2 separate regions of the Homo sapiens genome follow, and region 2 is linked to region 1. A link means that fine-mapping ties the variant in region 1 to the expression of a gene that starts in the linked region. Tissue or cell type: skeletal muscle. Region 1 holds a variant in brackets; the other region holds the start of a gene. All regions are shown on one strand. Distances are between the middles of the regions.

The links. PIP is the estimated chance that this variant, and not a neighbour inherited with it, causes the effect.
Region 2: it holds the start of LINC02453, and the variant in region 1 is fine-mapped to the expression of LINC02453 in skeletal muscle (FUSION, PIP 0.95).

What each region holds. Positions count from the first base shown.
Region 1 is chr12:98,478,045-98,486,236 of GRCh38, forward strand. It overlaps LINC02453 (long intergenic non-protein coding RNA 2453), which reads right to left. Exons shown (of 4, transcript NR_038383.1): 4 at 7,500-8,192. Among named protein-coding and RNA genes, the nearest start is that of TRD-GTC1-1, 21 kb to the right of the region's middle. The variant C/CA (reference allele first, on the strand shown) is at 4,544.
Region 2 is chr12:98,500,688-98,508,862 of GRCh38, forward strand. LINC02453 (long intergenic non-protein coding RNA 2453) reads right to left here and starts at 3,168. Exons shown (of 4, transcript NR_038383.1): 1 at 3,073-3,168; 2 at 1,896-1,925. TRD-GTC1-1 (tRNA-Asp (anticodon GTC) 1-1) reads left to right here and starts at 2,816; the gene lies at 2,816-2,887. TRW-CCA4-1 (tRNA-Trp (anticodon CCA) 4-1) reads left to right here and starts at 3,565; the gene lies at 3,565-3,636. RefSeq lists enhancers at 2,906-3,215, 3,226-3,525, 7,682-8,175.

The sequences.
Region 1 (8,192 bases):
AAACTGGCATTCTGTGATTGTAATGGAAAACAGATAAAGCAGGAGGAAGATGTAGGAAGATGGTGAGTATGAGAGAGGCATTTATAAATTATCAGAATATTAGTACTAATCCTTCTTGGCTTTTTTAAACCAGAAAAGGGAGCTCTGAATTTAATTCCCAAACTGTAATTTCTGGGACAAAAACTACCTAATGTACTATAATGGTTACATTTTATATCATCAGCTTTGATTGTCCTACATAAACACCAGTAACAATACCAATAAGAAGATCAATAATAATAGTAATATAAGTTTGTAATCAGTGACTTATTCACCATACGCCAAGCACTAGGTTAAGTGCTTTATGCTTTATCTCATTTAATTTTTTTTTTTTTACACGGGGTCTCTATCACCCAGGCTAGAGTGCGGTGGCACAACCATTCCTCACTGAAGCTTCGAACTCATGGCCTCAAGTGATCCTCCTGCCTCAGCCTCCCAAGTAACTGGGACTACAGGTGCATGCCACCACACCCAGCTAATTTTTTTATTTTTTGTAGATACATGGTCACACCATGTTGCTCAGACTGGTCTTAAACTCCTGGACTCAACGGATCCACCTGCCTTGATCTCCCAAAGTGCTGAGATTACAGATGTGAGCCACCGTGCCTGGCCTATCTCATTTAATCTTAACAGCACCCCTGTGATGTAGCCACTATTATCATACATATTTTACAAATGATGAAACAGGCTTACGAAGGTAGAGAAGTTACCCAGAATGACTCAGGTGGGAAGCTATGGGGCTGGACTTGAACTAAGGTATACCTGACTCCATGCTCTTAAGCCTGTTTGTTACTCAATTTGACATGTGTTCTATTCACAGATGCTGTATTAGTCTGTTCCATTCTCACATTGCTATAAAGAACTACCTGATCACCCACTACCCACACGCACTTTGGGAGGCCAAGGTGGGAGGATCGCTTGAGCCCAGGAGTTCAAGACCAGCCTGGGCAACATAGCGCAACCCCATCTCTACAAAAAATACAAAAATTAGCAGGGCATGATGATGCATGCCTGTAGTCCCAATTACTCAGGAGGCTGAGGCAAGATGATCGCGTGAGCCCTGGAGGTAGAGGCTGTAGTGTGCCAAGATCTCATCACTGCACTCCAGCCTGGGCGACAGAGTGAGACCCTATCTCAAAAAAAAAAAAGAACTGAGACTGGGTAATTTATGAAGAAAGAGGTTTAATTGACTCATAGTTCCACAGGCTGTATGGAAGCATGACTAGACCTCAGGAAACTTACAATCACGGCAGGTGAAGGGGAAGGAAGCACATCTTACTATGGCAGAGGAGAGAGAGAGAGAAAAGGGGGAAGTGCTACACACTTTTAAACCATCAAATCTTGTGAGAACTCACCCACTATGATGAGAATAGCAAGGGGGGAAACTGCCCCCATGATCCAATCAGCTCCCAACAGGTCCCTCCCCCAACATTGGGAATTACAATTCAAGATGAGATTTGGGTGAGGGCATAGAGCCAAATCATATCAGCATCTTTTGCTCAGAATTCCCATGTCTGGGGAATTCTCCACATTATAAGTCTCACCATCAAAGGTGGAAATCAGAAACTGGACTTCTCAGCCCTTCTTGCAGCTGGCATGCTGACTTGTGGCACAAGCCTTACTACCCAGATACACCCATATGAAGATTCAATTTGCAGAAGAACAGTATGAGAAAACAGGCAGTGCACAGAACCCATGCTTCCAGGGAGCGCTCCAGTGGAGGTGCCATTCCCATGAAGGTCTTCACAGCAGACAGCAGTGGAGGGGAGGGTGTTCTAACAGGGTCTTCAGTGACAGACACTGTAATGAAATCTTTGCTGTATCCACCAAGTCATTTGTTTCTGACTGTCAAGCTGCCAAGCCTAATTCTGGCCCTCCCAGAGTTTCTGTGAGCTTTAAGTTAGACCTCAATAAATTGTATTTCTCTCTTTTTTTTTTTTTTTTTTTTTTGATGTGGAGTCTCACTCTGTCACCCAGGCTGGAGTCCAGTGGCGCGATCTCGGCTCACTGCAAGCTCCTCCTCCTGGGTTCAAGCAACTCTCCTGCCTCAGCCTCCCGAGTAGCTGGGACTACAGGCACGCACCACCACGCCTGGCTAATTTTTTGTATTTTTAGTAGAGATGGGATTTCACCGTGTTAGCCAGGATGGCCTTGATCTCCTGACCTCCTGATCCGCCCACCTCAGCCTCTCAAAGTGCTGGGATTACAGGCGTGAGTCACTGCACCCGGCCTATTTCTGCTTTAACTAGCCAAAGTTTTGTTACATGGGACTAATAACCTGACTGGCACAATCTCTTCAAAACTCAGGAACTAATATTTCAAGCAGAAGTACAGAGATCTGTTTGTTCTGTTTTTCACAAGCTACAATCAATTTCATTATTAATGATTTGTTTTAAATGCACACACTTTTTCTAAGTGGGTGAGTCTTCTAATAATTCATCAAAAGTAGCAGGACTAGCTAAACTCGTCAGCTACATAGAGAGGTCTGCTGACTTTTCCCCCAACTGAGAAGCATTTCTTTCATGAGTAGAAATCCCAAAACACTTCAAATATACATTTTACCCTTTGGATATATTTTCTTTCTTTGCTTCCTTTGCTATTAATATTAATGTAATATATCTGGTTCTAACTGTGAATTTAATCAAATTCTTATTCTTTTGTCTTCACTTTATTCCTAAGGCCAAACTCTGAAACTTTTGCTAATTCCTGTCAGATATTTCATTCTCATAAAATGTCATCCTCGTCATCTCTCCTACTGATGGATTAAATGACATTACATAATTGTGAGGCATTTAGAACACTTTTTAAAATCTTATTTTTCCTACTGGTTGTCCACTGATCAACAGTCTGCCATGTTACATGCGGTATCCTTACATGAGGAACATGGCAGACAGAGTTGGTTGCCTTCTTGACAGCCATTTCCCATTATTTCTTGCTCAAAGAGCTTCAACTTGTGCAGGCATAGGCAGAAATATGCTCTTCCCCCAGCCCCAGCTAATTAATCCTGATGGTTTCCCTTTCCTTTTGCTGTGATTTAGGGTAGGCATCAGGTAGGTATATAAATTTGCCCAATCACTCTGGTCTAACTTTAAAACAATTTATGGTCCTCATAAAATAAGACGAATGCATGAAGAAGAGCGTCTGTACTCTCTTTTTCCTAATTTAGACATCATGCACGGATGTGATGTTTGCAGTTGCAGCAGGCATTTTGTAACCATGAAGAATTAAAAAATAAAAATAAAAAATAAAAATATAATGCCAGGCGCAGTGGCTCACAGCTGTAATCCCAGCACTTTGGGAGGCCGAGGCGGGCAGATCACGAGGTCAGAAGTTTGAGACCAGCCTGGCCACCATGGTGAAACCGCGTCTCTACTAAAAATACAAAAATTAGCCAGGCGTGGTGGCATGCACCTATAAGCCCAGCTACTGAGGGGGCTGAGGTGGAAGAATCACTTGAACCCGGGAGGCGGAGGTTGCAGAGAGCCGAGATCGCACCACTGCACTCCAGCCTGGGCAACAGAGTGAGACTCTATCTCAAAAAAAAATAAAATAAAATAAAACTAAGTGTTGAGGATGTGATGGTCAGGAGAGCAGCCAGTAGAAGTCAGTGATTCACATAACTTCACCTGCAAGCCATGGAAAAATCTCAGCAATCTAAGGCAAGACACTGCCTTCAATCCCAGCTGCTGACAGCACCAAAACAGGAAACTCTCAAGATTTTGCCTTCAGCCCATGTGTCTGCCTTCAACTGCCTCTGTTGAATAATGGTTTTTCTTTTCTGCTTTCCTTCTCACACAAGTGCCTCTCATTGGCAAACTCCAACTTGGAATCAAATGAAGGAGGGGATTCTGTCACATGTAACTACAGGTTTCTCTTCTTTAATGCAGAGCGGACTCTAGAAGGGATAATGGAGAGGTATAGCTGGACAACAGACAATCCAGCACAATGAAAGTGAAATGATGCCTTCAAAATTTTGAGGGCTAATAACTTCCAACTAGAATTATATTCTCAGCTAAGCTATCAATCAAGTATAAACATAAAATTGAATCCAGGCATGGTGGCTCACACCTGTCATCCTAGCTGCTTGGGAGGCTGCGGCAGGAGGATCCCTTGAGCCTAGGAGCTCAAGGTTACCATAAACTATGATCACATCACTGCATCCCATCCTGGGTGACAGAGCAAGACCCTATCTCTAAAAATAAAAATATAAAGGTTTTTTTTGGCTGGGCACAGTGGCCCACACCTGTAATCCCAGCACTTTGGGAGGCCAAGGTGGGCAGATTGCCTGAGGTCAGGAGTTCAAAACCAGCCTGGCCAACATGGCGAAACCCAGTCTCTACTAAAAATACAAAAAAAATTAGCCAGGCGTGGTGGTGGGTGACTGTAATCCCAATTACTTGGGAGGCTGAGGCAGGAGAATCACTTGAACCCAGGAGGTGGAGGTTGCAGTGAGCCAAGATCGCACCACTGCATTCCAGCCAGGTGGCAGAGTGAGACTCCGTCT[C/CA]AAAAAAAAAAAAAAACAGAAAAAGAAAAAAAAAAGTTTTTTAGACATAAAAGGTCTGAAAAAGTTAACTTCCGTGTACCCATTCTCAAGAAATTTCAAGAAGATTGACTCCACCAGAATAAGACGAAAGCAAGAGAGAGTGTGAATTAAGAGTAAAGAGGAAGAAATGAGATGCAAGAAAGAAGCAATCCAACACGAGAGAAATAAAAAGGGTCCTCAGGAGGATGATAAAAAGAGGTCCTTGAATGACAGCTATGTGTCAGATGCAGAGGACAGTCAATCCAGATGGGAGCAATGTGACACAAGATGCAGACATCACAGGAGCCATCTCGAAGATACCCTTTGCCATTGGACCATCTTTTTGAGGCCTGGTGAATCTGACCTAGATTTTGTCTGTGCTTGGCACATCTTGACTATGTACCAATGGAGTTTCTGCTCTCCTCACCATGACAAGCAGAATTCTAAAATGACCTCCATAATCTCCACCCCCTAGTTATGAGTAGGTTTATGTCACCTTGCATGACACAAAGTTTTGTAGATGTAATTAAGGCGACTAATCAGTTGACTTTAAGACAAAGGATTATCCTGGTAAACCTGACTTAATCACATGAGCCCTTTAAAGGCATTTTAAGAGCATTTTCTCTGGCTGGTAGCAGAAGAGAAAGCCAGAGAGATTCTAAGCACAAGGGAGACTCAACATAAGGGAGACTCATCATAAGGAAGAGTCTCCAATGCTGAGTGGAGGGGGCCACCTGAGAGCAGCCTCTACGAGCTGGCAGCAGTCCCCACTGACAGCCAGAAAGAAAGTGAAGGCCAGGCACAGTGGCTCACGCCTGTAATCCCAATACTTTGGGAGGCCAAGCGGGCAGATCACTTGAGGTCAGGAGTTCAAGACCAGCCTGGCCAACATGGTGAAACCCCGTCTCTACTGAAAATACAAAAATTAGCCAGGCATGTTGGCAGATGCCTGTAATCCCAAGTACTTGGGAGGCTAAGGCAGGAGAATCGCTTGAACCCAGGAGGTGGAGGTTGCTGTGAGCCCAGACTGTGCCATTGCACTCCAGCCTGGGCAACAGAGAGAAACTCTGTTAAAAAAGAAAGAAAGAAAGAAAGAGAGAGAGAGAGGGAGGGAGGGAGGGAGGGAGGGGGAAGGGGAGGGGAGGGGAGGGGAGGAGAGGAGAGGAGGAGCCTCCAGTGCTGCACCTGCAAGGAAATGAACTCTGCTAACAACTTGAGCTACCTTGGAAATGAATCTTTCCCTAGGGGAGCCTCCAGAGGAGGAGGCAGCCAACCAATGTCTTGATTTCAGCCTAATGAGACCTTGAGGAGAGGAACCAGCTAAAATGTGCCAGGCTCCTCACCTGTAAAAACTATGAGACAATAAACGTATGTTGTTTTAAGCTGCTGCATTGGTGATAATTTATTATGTGGCAATAGAAGACTAACACACCCACCATGACCTGCTGTCTTCACGAACTGAGGAAATTCACCTTACCCCATAGAAGGGGTTTGCTTTGATTTCTTCTTGAAAGTAGGTAAGAAACCATGGCGAGCTTGGGAGCTGCAGATAGAGAGTCTCCCACTTCTTGACTATGTTTCCGCAGATATCCATTACCTGACCCAAACTGCAGCCCTGCCAGATGTCCCAGCTGTGATATATCCTGTGTTTCCCAGAACTCACTCTTGACCCTGACCGCAGACTTCCCAAAAGGAGCTCTTGCATTCTCTCAGGAACGCTGCCACTGAACGTGACCCAGAGCTTATCTTTTGAGAGCCTGCTGCAATGGTTGGGCTTGCCACTCAGTTGTCAAAAATAAGCAATATAAGGCCAGGAGCCATGGCTCACACCTGTAATCCTAGCACTTTGGGAGGCTGAGGCAGGCAGATCACTTGAGTCCAGGAGTTCAAGACTAGCCTGGGCAACGTGGCGCAACCCTGTCTCTACCAAAAAAGAAAATACAAAAATTAGCCGGGCATGACGGTGCATGCCTGTAGTCCCAGCTAATTGAGGAGCTGAGGTGGGAGGACTGCTGAAGCCTGGGAGGTCAAGGCTGCAGTGAGATGTGACTGTGCCACTACACTCCAGCCTGAGCAACAGATCAAGACTCTCAAAATAACAACAACAAAGATATTTTTTGTTCTCATCAAATACAAAAAATAAACAATCTAATATTTAAGGATACATATAGGTGGTAAAACTATAAAGCAAAGCAAGAAATAATTATCAAAAAATCAGGATAGTGGTTATCTCTTGAGGAGGAAGAAGAAGATGATGATTAAAGTAGAGCACGCAGAGGATTTTCAAGTCACTGGCAAAGTTTTACATGTTCATCTGGATAACAGGTACACAGGTGTTCATTTTACCATTATTCTATAAACTCTCTGTATTTTTATACAGTCTTCTGTGGTATTATGCTTAACACATAAATGCTTAATAAAAGATAGCGTTATTATAAATTGAGGAAATGCAAGACATGAAACTACAAATTAAAATTCCATCCGGCCGGGCGCAGTGGCTCATGCCTATAATCCCAGCACTTTGGGAGGCCGAGGCAGGCGGATCACGAGGTCAAGAGATCGAGACCATCCTGGCCAACATGGTGAAACCCCATCTCTAGTAAAAATACCAAAAAAAAAAAAAAATTAGCCAGGCGTGGTGGCAGGCGCCTGTAATCCCAGCTACTTGGGAGGCTGAGGCAGGAGAATCGCTTGAACCCGGGAGGCGGAGGTTGTAGTGAGCCGAGATCATGCCACTGCACTCCAGCTTGGGCAAAAAGAGCAAAACTCTGTCTCAACAACAACAAAAAAATAAAATAAAATTCCATCCTGACTGCTTTGTCCTTGAGTTTCTTTCCTTAGAATTTACTAGAGTGTTAAAAGTTTCATAGGAAATAGTCTCTGAATATCAGGAACACTTTAGAGTTTCCACCAGTGGGGAAAAGATGAGCTATTCAATAAACAATATTAGATTTTATTCATATCTCAAATCTTACACCAAAATAAATTTCAGATAGATCAAGACTTACATGTGAAAAAAATGAAAACTTGAAAGTAAGACAAGAAAATATGGGAGAATTATTTTACAATCTGGGAAAGCCTTTCTAAGCATGATGCAAAATATAGATGCAATAAAACGAAAGAAGCTAAATATAAATACATGTTTTAAATTCTGCTTAGTAACAACACCAGAAACAAACTCAAAAGGCATGAAAAGCTTGGAACAACTATTTGTATTCCTATGGATTGATAAGAAAAAGACCAGTAATTCACTGAAAAAAAAAAAATGGGCAGAGGATATGAACAGACAGTTCTTAGAAATTTCAAATGGCTTTTAAACATATGAAAGTATGCTCTATCTTTCCATAATAAAGAAAATGCAAATTTAAAATACCAGATTGGCACAGATAAAAATTTTGATAACACCATGTGGGTGAAGGTTAGAGAAACAGATGCTCTCACATATTGCTGGTGGGAGTGTAAACTGGCTCAACCCCTGCGGAGAACAACTTGACGATATCTATCAAAATCTAAAGCGCATGTTTTGGCAGGCGCCATGAGTTGTGTACCCCAAAATCATTGCTCCATACTCCTTGTTAATAGAATCCATTTGTTCAAGTGGCAATGTGCCAAGCCCCAAGAAACGAATTTA
Region 2 (8,175 bases), 23 kb after region 1:
AGGTTAATTGCCCTCTCTTTTCCTTTCCATTTTCGGATGATGGACAGCAAGTGCTGCGTTCCCTGCTCCCTGATCTCACTGACTCAGACTGCCTCTTACTTTCACCAGGGATGAAAAAGGAGCAGTAACAACACGTGTGTGAGCACTGGCATAGCTTTACGAGAGCTTCAGTGGAAAGGATGTCTCTTCTAAAGGAAGAGATGAAGCTGCTTTTCCCGAGAGTGCAGAACACGGGGCAAACAGTTGATTCAGGAGAACTGGGTTCACTGCCCCATAGCTCTACGAACTGAGAGACTTGGGGAAGTCCCTTCGATTTTACTAGGAAAAGGACGTCATCATAGCTATCACAGTGCCCTTTGGCCCTGGCAAAAGTTTTTGGAGGATCAAAGTGGAAGGAGGCTCCCACACACTGAGAGTTTGTATTGAGGCTTTCGGTGTAGTTAAGAGTGAAACAGGGGCCGGGCGCGGTGGCTCACGCCTGTAATCCCAGCACTTTGGGAGGCCGAGGCGGGTGAATCACCTGAGGTCAGGAGTTCTAGATCAGCCTGACCAACATGGTGAAACTGTCTCTACTAGAAATACAAAATTAGCTGGCTGTGGTGGCACATGCCTGTAATCCAGCTACTTGGGAGACTGAGGCAGGAGAATCGCTTGAACTCGGGAGGCAGACGTTGCAGTGAGCCAAGATTGTGCCATTGCACTCCAACCTGGGCAACAAGAGCAAAACTGCGTCTCAAAAAAAGAAAAGAGAGAGAGAGTGAAAAAGGGCTGAGCGCGGCCGCTTGAGGCCGAGGCGGGTGGATCACTTGAGGTCAGGAGTTTGAGACCAGCCTGACTAACATGGTGAAACCCCCGACTCTACTAAAAATACAAAAGGGAGTGGTGGCGTGCGCCTGTAGTTCCAGCTACTCGGGAGGCTAAGGCAGAGGAATCGCCCGAACCCAGAAGGCGGAGGTTGCAGTGAGCCGAGAGCGTGCCACTGCACTCCTGCCTGGGCGACAGAGCAAGACTCCGTCTCAAATAATAATAATAATAATGAGAGCAAAAAAGAAAGAAAAGCCAAAACAAGCCTCAGAAACTGCCATTTGTTTAATATCTGCATTAAAAAAATTATCCCTTCCATCAGATGAAAAATACCTTATAATTTATGATGGATAATACATTAATTCGTAGCACACTAGAAACAAGGGATTCCTTAAGACACATATGTGGGGTTTTTGTTGTTGTTGTTGTTGTTGTTGTTATTTTTATTATCTTTAAGGATAATTTGTTGGGTAGGGGTCAGTGAGTTGGGAGTCCTGATTGGTTGGGTCGGAGACGAGACACGTAAGTTTAAGTTCTATAATGAAACGCTTTCAATCATGTCAGTTTATCTGTGCCTATAAACACACTCCTTTAGAGAAAATCAAAAGTTTATAGCCAGGCGCGGTGGCTCACGCCTGTAATCCCAGCACTTTGGGAGGCCGAGGTGGGTGGATCACCTTAGGTCAGGAGTTCGAGACCAGCCTGACCAACGTGGTGAATTACCATCTCTACTAGAAACACAAATTGAACGGGCGTGTTTGTGGGCACCTGTAATCCCAGCTACTCGGGAGGCTGAGACAGGAGAATCGCTTGAACCCGGGGGACGGAGGTGGTAGTGAGCCAAGATCGCACCACTGCACTCCAGCCTGGGCAACAAGAGTGAAACTCCGTCTCAAAAAAAAAAGTTTACATATAAGGCTCTCTTAGTATCCCTGGGAAGAGGGTTCATCCTGTCTATGAACGGGTTTAGGATGACACAAATTATCAAATTATCCGATTAGTGCACTTTCCTAACCCATATGTTTAATCAGTGGCACATCCTGGTTTTGAATTATTTAAACGCATTATTATTTAGCCATTCACATACTTACGTTTGTCACTTCCAGTTAAACTGTAGCCACCTACAGAGAGCGAAACAGAAGTCGGCTGATAAAATTTTGATAAAATTTCATTTGCCCGCAGCTGGTCATTTCATTGGGCGCTTTTGTGTTACAAAAGTGTGTGAATTGGCCGGGCGCGGTGGCTCACGCCTGTAAATCCCAGCACTTTGGGAGGCCGAGGCAGGTGGATCACTAAAGGTCACGAGTTCGAGACCAGTCTGGCCAACATGGTGAACCCTCCCCCCCCCCACACACACACACACACCCCGCGTCTCTAGTAAAATACAAAAATTAGCCAGGCATGGTGGTGCGCGCCTGTAATCCCAGCCACTCGAGAGGCTGAGGCGGGAGAATCACTTGAGCCTTGGAGGTGGAGGTTGTAGTGAGCCCAGATCGCAACACTGCACTCCAGCCTAGGGGACAGAGCGAGACTTCCTCTCAAAAAAAAAAGACTTATGAATTGTTTGAAGAGGCACGAGACCGTGGCAACCCTAACTGTCCCCGACATCTGGCAGCCATATGCTATCCTTGAACTTGAACTTCAGAGTGAAAGTATAAATTTGTAAGGGGAAGGCTCAGCCGCAAGTCACATACCAGTGGTCAGTTAAAAAAAAAAAACTCAGGACGGCAACCTAAATCATTTAGAACGCGTCAAGAGCCTCGGAAAAACTATTTTCACACACTTCTCTAGCACTAACATGGGAAGCGCGTTTCCTTCACATATTCCACACCTTTTATTCTTCCCACCAACATCAAGAATACAAAGCGCCCAGAGAGGACAATAAGCCTAAGCAGCGGCTCCAAGAGACCGGACTTTCGTACTTCCCGGGGGCAGGCGGAAGGTTACGGAGCGCTGGAAGGATCTTACTGCTCCTTGAAGGGCTGTCTGAGAAAATACACAGCCTAACGACTCCTCGTTAGTATAGTGGTTAGTATCCCCGCCTGTCACGCGGGAGACCGGGGTTCAATTCCCCGACGGGGAGGTGTGTAGCTGCACTTTTTTGGCGACAGTTATTATTTTCTGTATCATTCAATGACAGGACACTGCTGTTAAACATAATATGCTAAACCAGCTCCCTTAAGTGCACAACCCTGTCTTCAAAATGGTGACTTTTAACCTTAATGCCCACCATGAAGTGAAAGCCTCCCCTGAGAGAAAATGCCTTACATTGTTTGCAGGAAGGGAGGAAAGGGAAAAAGAAAACGCTCTGAAGGCCTCTGCCCTTGCCTCCAGCCGCCATCTTGCGAAGGCCTGCGCCGGCTTAGTGGCGCCCCGCCAGATTACAACTCGAGGTCGCGAACTCAGCGCGCGGAACCTGTTGGGGGAGGGGAGAGAGGGCGGAGTCTCGCGACTAACGGGGCGGGGGCAGGGCGGGTAAGAACGGAAATCATTTGGTAAAGAAAAGGAAGGGCCAATTTCCTTTGATCCTGGAGACCCGACTAAACGGGAAGCCCCGTTCTCCCGCTTCCGCTGGTTACGTCCCAGCCTTGGTTAGAGGACTAGCAGTCAGGAAAGTTTGGACGCTGAAGGAATCGGTCTCCTGGTCCGACAGATACTGGGTGGAGGGGCAGAGAGTAAATGGAAGAGAAAGACTGGTACCCCTGGAAGAAACGCCATTTACTGGTGTCCTAAGAAACTGCGCGAGCCACAGCCCAGCAGGACCTCGTGGCGCAACGGTAGCGCGTCTGACTCCAGATCAGAAGGCTGCGTGTTCGAATCACGTCGGGGTCAAACTTTTTTTTTTTCCTCCTGTATTTTAAACTACCGACTACTAGAAGCCGAGGTGTATTCCTGCCGCCAATTTTCTTGAATGTTAGAATTAAGTTTTCCTCTTTCAGGTATTATGATACTAATCCTTGGTTTGCAGGAAGATATGATTTACTCTATATCGAAGAGCCTCAAGGCTGATGTTTTTATCATTTGGCCTTTTAAAGTGAGTTTTTTTGTCACTTAACATGCATAATGTGTAAAGAGGTGGACTATTACTGCTGTGCATTAGTGGGTGTATCAGTCCACTAGTCTATCACAGGAAGTGTACAATATACTGTACAAGCTGTTTTTTCCAAACAGTTTTAGGCTGTTTGCCTTTTGAAAGAGAGTACAATAGTGTACAATTTCTAATTTTGAATATTATGCTAATCAAGTGTCTTAGCCCTTACCATGTGCCAACACTGTGAACAACCTCACAATGTGTGACTATTATCCCACTTTTACAAATGTGGCTGTGGCTCACAGGGTTAGTGACCTGCCAAGGGTCACCCAAGATTCTGAACCAGGTGAGGGACTCTGGATCCCTCTTTATAAATACTTTATAATAAAGGTGGAAACAAACAGTTGAAAGAATGTGTGACTGCCAGGCTCAGTGGCTTACACCTGTAATCCTAGCACTTTGGAAGGCCAAAGTGGGTGGATCACGAGGTCAGGAGTTCAAGACCAGCCTGACCAACATGGTGAAACCCCATTTCTACTGAAAATACAAAAATTAGCTGGGCATGGTGGGGTGCACCTGTAATCCCAGCTACTCCGGAGGCTGAGGCAGAAGAATTGATTGAACCCGGGAGGCGGAGGTTGCAGTGAGCCTGGGTGACCAAGCAAGACTCCTTCTGGAGGTGGGTGGCGGGGAGGAATGTGGGAAAAGCTGTTGGACTGGGCGCCTTTTATGTTTTCACCGATTATGCGAGTGATGACTAGTCACCACTTTTGACTATTAATCTCTTTAATAGCAGGAAGCAAAGCTTGCTCGTTCACATTTGCAAGCTCCAGGACTCTTAGTACTAAATAGTGCCCTACACGTAAGTGTCAAATATTTGTTGAACAGAAAATGAATAGCAAGACTATGAGAAATTAATAGTTTTAGATTTTGATGATATGTTTTGTAAAATTCCTGAGGTTTTCTGCTTAGTATTTTGAAAATACCAAACACTAATTTCTTTTGATTCAACCTAATGTAGCAGTATACCTGGAAATTATATTTGCACATGGTGTGGTTTGTTCTTCCCTCTCCTGTTTGGATTAAAATTAGATCATCCATTTCAACGGGTATTTATGGACTGTCAACTCTGATGAGCCTGATACTGTGCTAAGTACTAAGGATGAGGATACACTGAGTAAAAATGGGTTTTTTTGAGCATCAGGAGACAGATATGTTAAGCCACCAAACGCCATAATGTGTTGGGGTAAGTTCATGTTACTTGGTAAGAACCATGAAAGTAACATGAACAGAGTGGTATGGGGGTGCTAAAACAGTGGACAGTAACTCCACATTGGGTTGTATGAGGCTATAACAAGGTGATACAACCTCTCCATCTACATCACAAAAATATGGTTTTGTCCAAATGAGTTAACATGATTGGTCCAAGCTACGATATATGCAGTATATGCAAATGATGCCAGAGGGAAGAAATGGCTTCTGTTATGGGCTGAATTTTTTTTTTTTTTTTTTTTTTGAGATGGAGTCTCACCCTGTCGCCCAAGCTGGAATGCAGTGGCAACCTCCGCCTCCCAGGTTCAAACGATTCAGCCTCCCAAGTAGCTGGGATTACAAGTGCACCCCACTACACCCAGCTATTTTTTTGTTTGTTTGTTTGTTATCTTTAGTAGAGACAAGGTTTCACCATGTTGGCCAGGCTGGTCTTGAACTCCTGACCTCATGATCCACCTGCGTCAGCCTCCCAAAGTGCTGGGATTACAGGCGTGAGCCACCACACCCAGTTTATGGGCTGAATTTCATCTCCCCAACATTCATATGTTGAAGCCCTCACTCCTAGTACCTCAGAATGATCGTAAGACCTGATTAAGTACGCTAGGTGCAGTGGCTCACGCCTGTAATCCCAGCACTTTGGGAGGCCAAGGCAGGTGGATCACAAGATCAGGAGTTGGAGACCAGCCTTGCCAACATGGTGAAACCCTGTCTCTACTGGAAATAGAAAAATTAGCTGGGCGCGGTGGCGGGTGCCTATAATTCCAGCTACTCGGGAGGCTGAGGCAGGAGAATTGCTTGAACCCGGGAGGCAGAGGTTGCAGTGAGCCGAGATCGCACCACTGCACTCTAGCCTAGGTGACAGAGCAAGACTCTCTTTTAAAAAAAAAAAAAAAAAGACATTATTAAGTAAAAATGAGGCCATTAGGGTGGGCCCTAATCCAGTCTGACTGGTGTCATATTTATAAGAGGAAATTTGGACACACAGACACCAAGGATGTGTGCACACAGGGGAAAGGCCATGTGAGGATACAGCAAGAGAGTAGCCATCTACAAGCCAAGGTCTAGGAAGAAGCCAACCCTGCTGGCCTCTTGATCTTAGACTTCTAGCCTCAAGATCTCTGAGAAAATAAATATCTGTTTACTTTTATTATGGTAGCCCTGGCAAACGAATACAGCTTCCGTCAAGAACTACTAGTTCTGCAGAATGGCTGGAGAGGTAAATAGGCGTCAGCATACAGGATCAGTGTGCCATTCCAACTAATTTAGATTTTATTCTGAGGGCAATGCAGAACTATAATTCATGACTAAGACAATCCAGCCAGCTTCACAAAGACTAAAAAATGGCCAAGAACTGTTCCTGGACCACCATCCTGGGAATAAGTTAGAAATGCAAATTTTCAGGCCTCACCTCAGACCTACAGTCTCAGAAAATTGGGTGTGGGGCACAGCAACAAACCTTCCAGCCGTTTTGATGCAAGCTAAAGTTTGAGGACCTCCGGCCTATAAAGCAAGGCAAGACTAGACGTCCTACTTACCCCACAGGTTAAAAGGATCAAATAAGATAAAATACATCAAAATGTTTTTGAAGCTGTTATACATGTCATTATTAATACTGTTATGGCTCTAAAACTGTCACTTCCCAGGTCCCAGATTCTTTCCCAAGGCTGGACATCTGTAGTTTTTTAGAATGCTCCATCTGATGACTTTCTATAACTTTGAAATGACTGCAAATCCAACACTTTTTAACTTAATCTTCTATACTCATGATATAGGGATGATATACGGAAAGAGTTTTATAGGAAAGGTGGAAACAAAGAGCTATCAAGAGCTATGAAGTGTCAGGATTTGAACTGAAACATGGACCTGTCTAGAAAAGACAGCTCTGTGGATTTGTTCTATTTCACTAAGAAATGTCTATTCATGTATTCTTGCAAGAGGACTTATCCACTACTATAGAATGCTCTGAGCATTTATTTCACCTGTTTAATAGCCTTGCTTTCTTTTCTGAGAGTATTTTAGTTACTTAAGTCCTGTGAAAGAAAAATCTCGGTGTTACTGGGGTCCCAATCCAGACCACAAGAGAGGGTTCTTGAACCTCACACAAGAAAGAATTCAAGGCGAGTCCATAAAATGAAAGCAAGTTTATTAGGTAAAGGAATAAAGAATGGCTACTCCATAGGCAGAGCAGCCCAGAGGGCTGCTGATTGCCCATTTTTGTGGTTATTTCTTCATTATATGCTAAACAAGGGGTGGATTATTCATGCCTCCCCTTTTTAGACCATATAGGGTAACCTCCTGACATTGCCATGGCATTTGTAAACTGTCATGGTGCTGGTGGGAGTGTAGCAGTGAGGACAACCAGAGGTCACTCTCATCGCCATCTTGGTTTTGGTGGGTTTTGGCAGGCTACTGCAACCTGTTTCACCAGCAAGGTCTTTATGACCTGTGTCTTTTTTTTTTTTTTTTTTTTTTTTTTTGAGACAGAGTCTCACTCTCGCCCAGGCTGGAGTGCAGTGGTGCAATCTCAGCTCACTGCAACCTCCACCTCCCAGGTTCAAGCAATTCTTCTGCCTCAGCCTCCTGAGTAGCTGGGACTACAGGCACGCGCCACCACGCCCAGCTAATTTTTGTATTTTTAGTAGAGACAGGGTTTCACCATGTTGGTCAGGCTGGTCTCGAACTCCTGACCTCGTGATCCACCTGCCTTGGCCTCCCAAAGTGCTGGGATTACAGGCGTGAGCCACCGTGCCCGGCCTATGACCTGTATCTTCTGCCGACCTCCTATCTCGTCTTGTGACTTAAAATGCCTTAACTGTCTGGGAATGCAGCCCAGTAGGTCTTTTCTTTTTTTTTTTTTTTTTTTTTTGAGACGGAGTTTTGCTCGTTGTCCAGGCTGGACTGCAATGGCGCGATCTTGGCTCACTACAACCTCCGCCTCCCGGGTTCAAGCGATTCTTCTGCCTCAGCCTCCTGAGTAGCTGGGATTACAGGCATGTGCCACCACGCCCAGCTAATTTTGTATTTTTAGTAGAGACAGGGTTTCTCCATGTTGATCAGGCTGGTCTCAA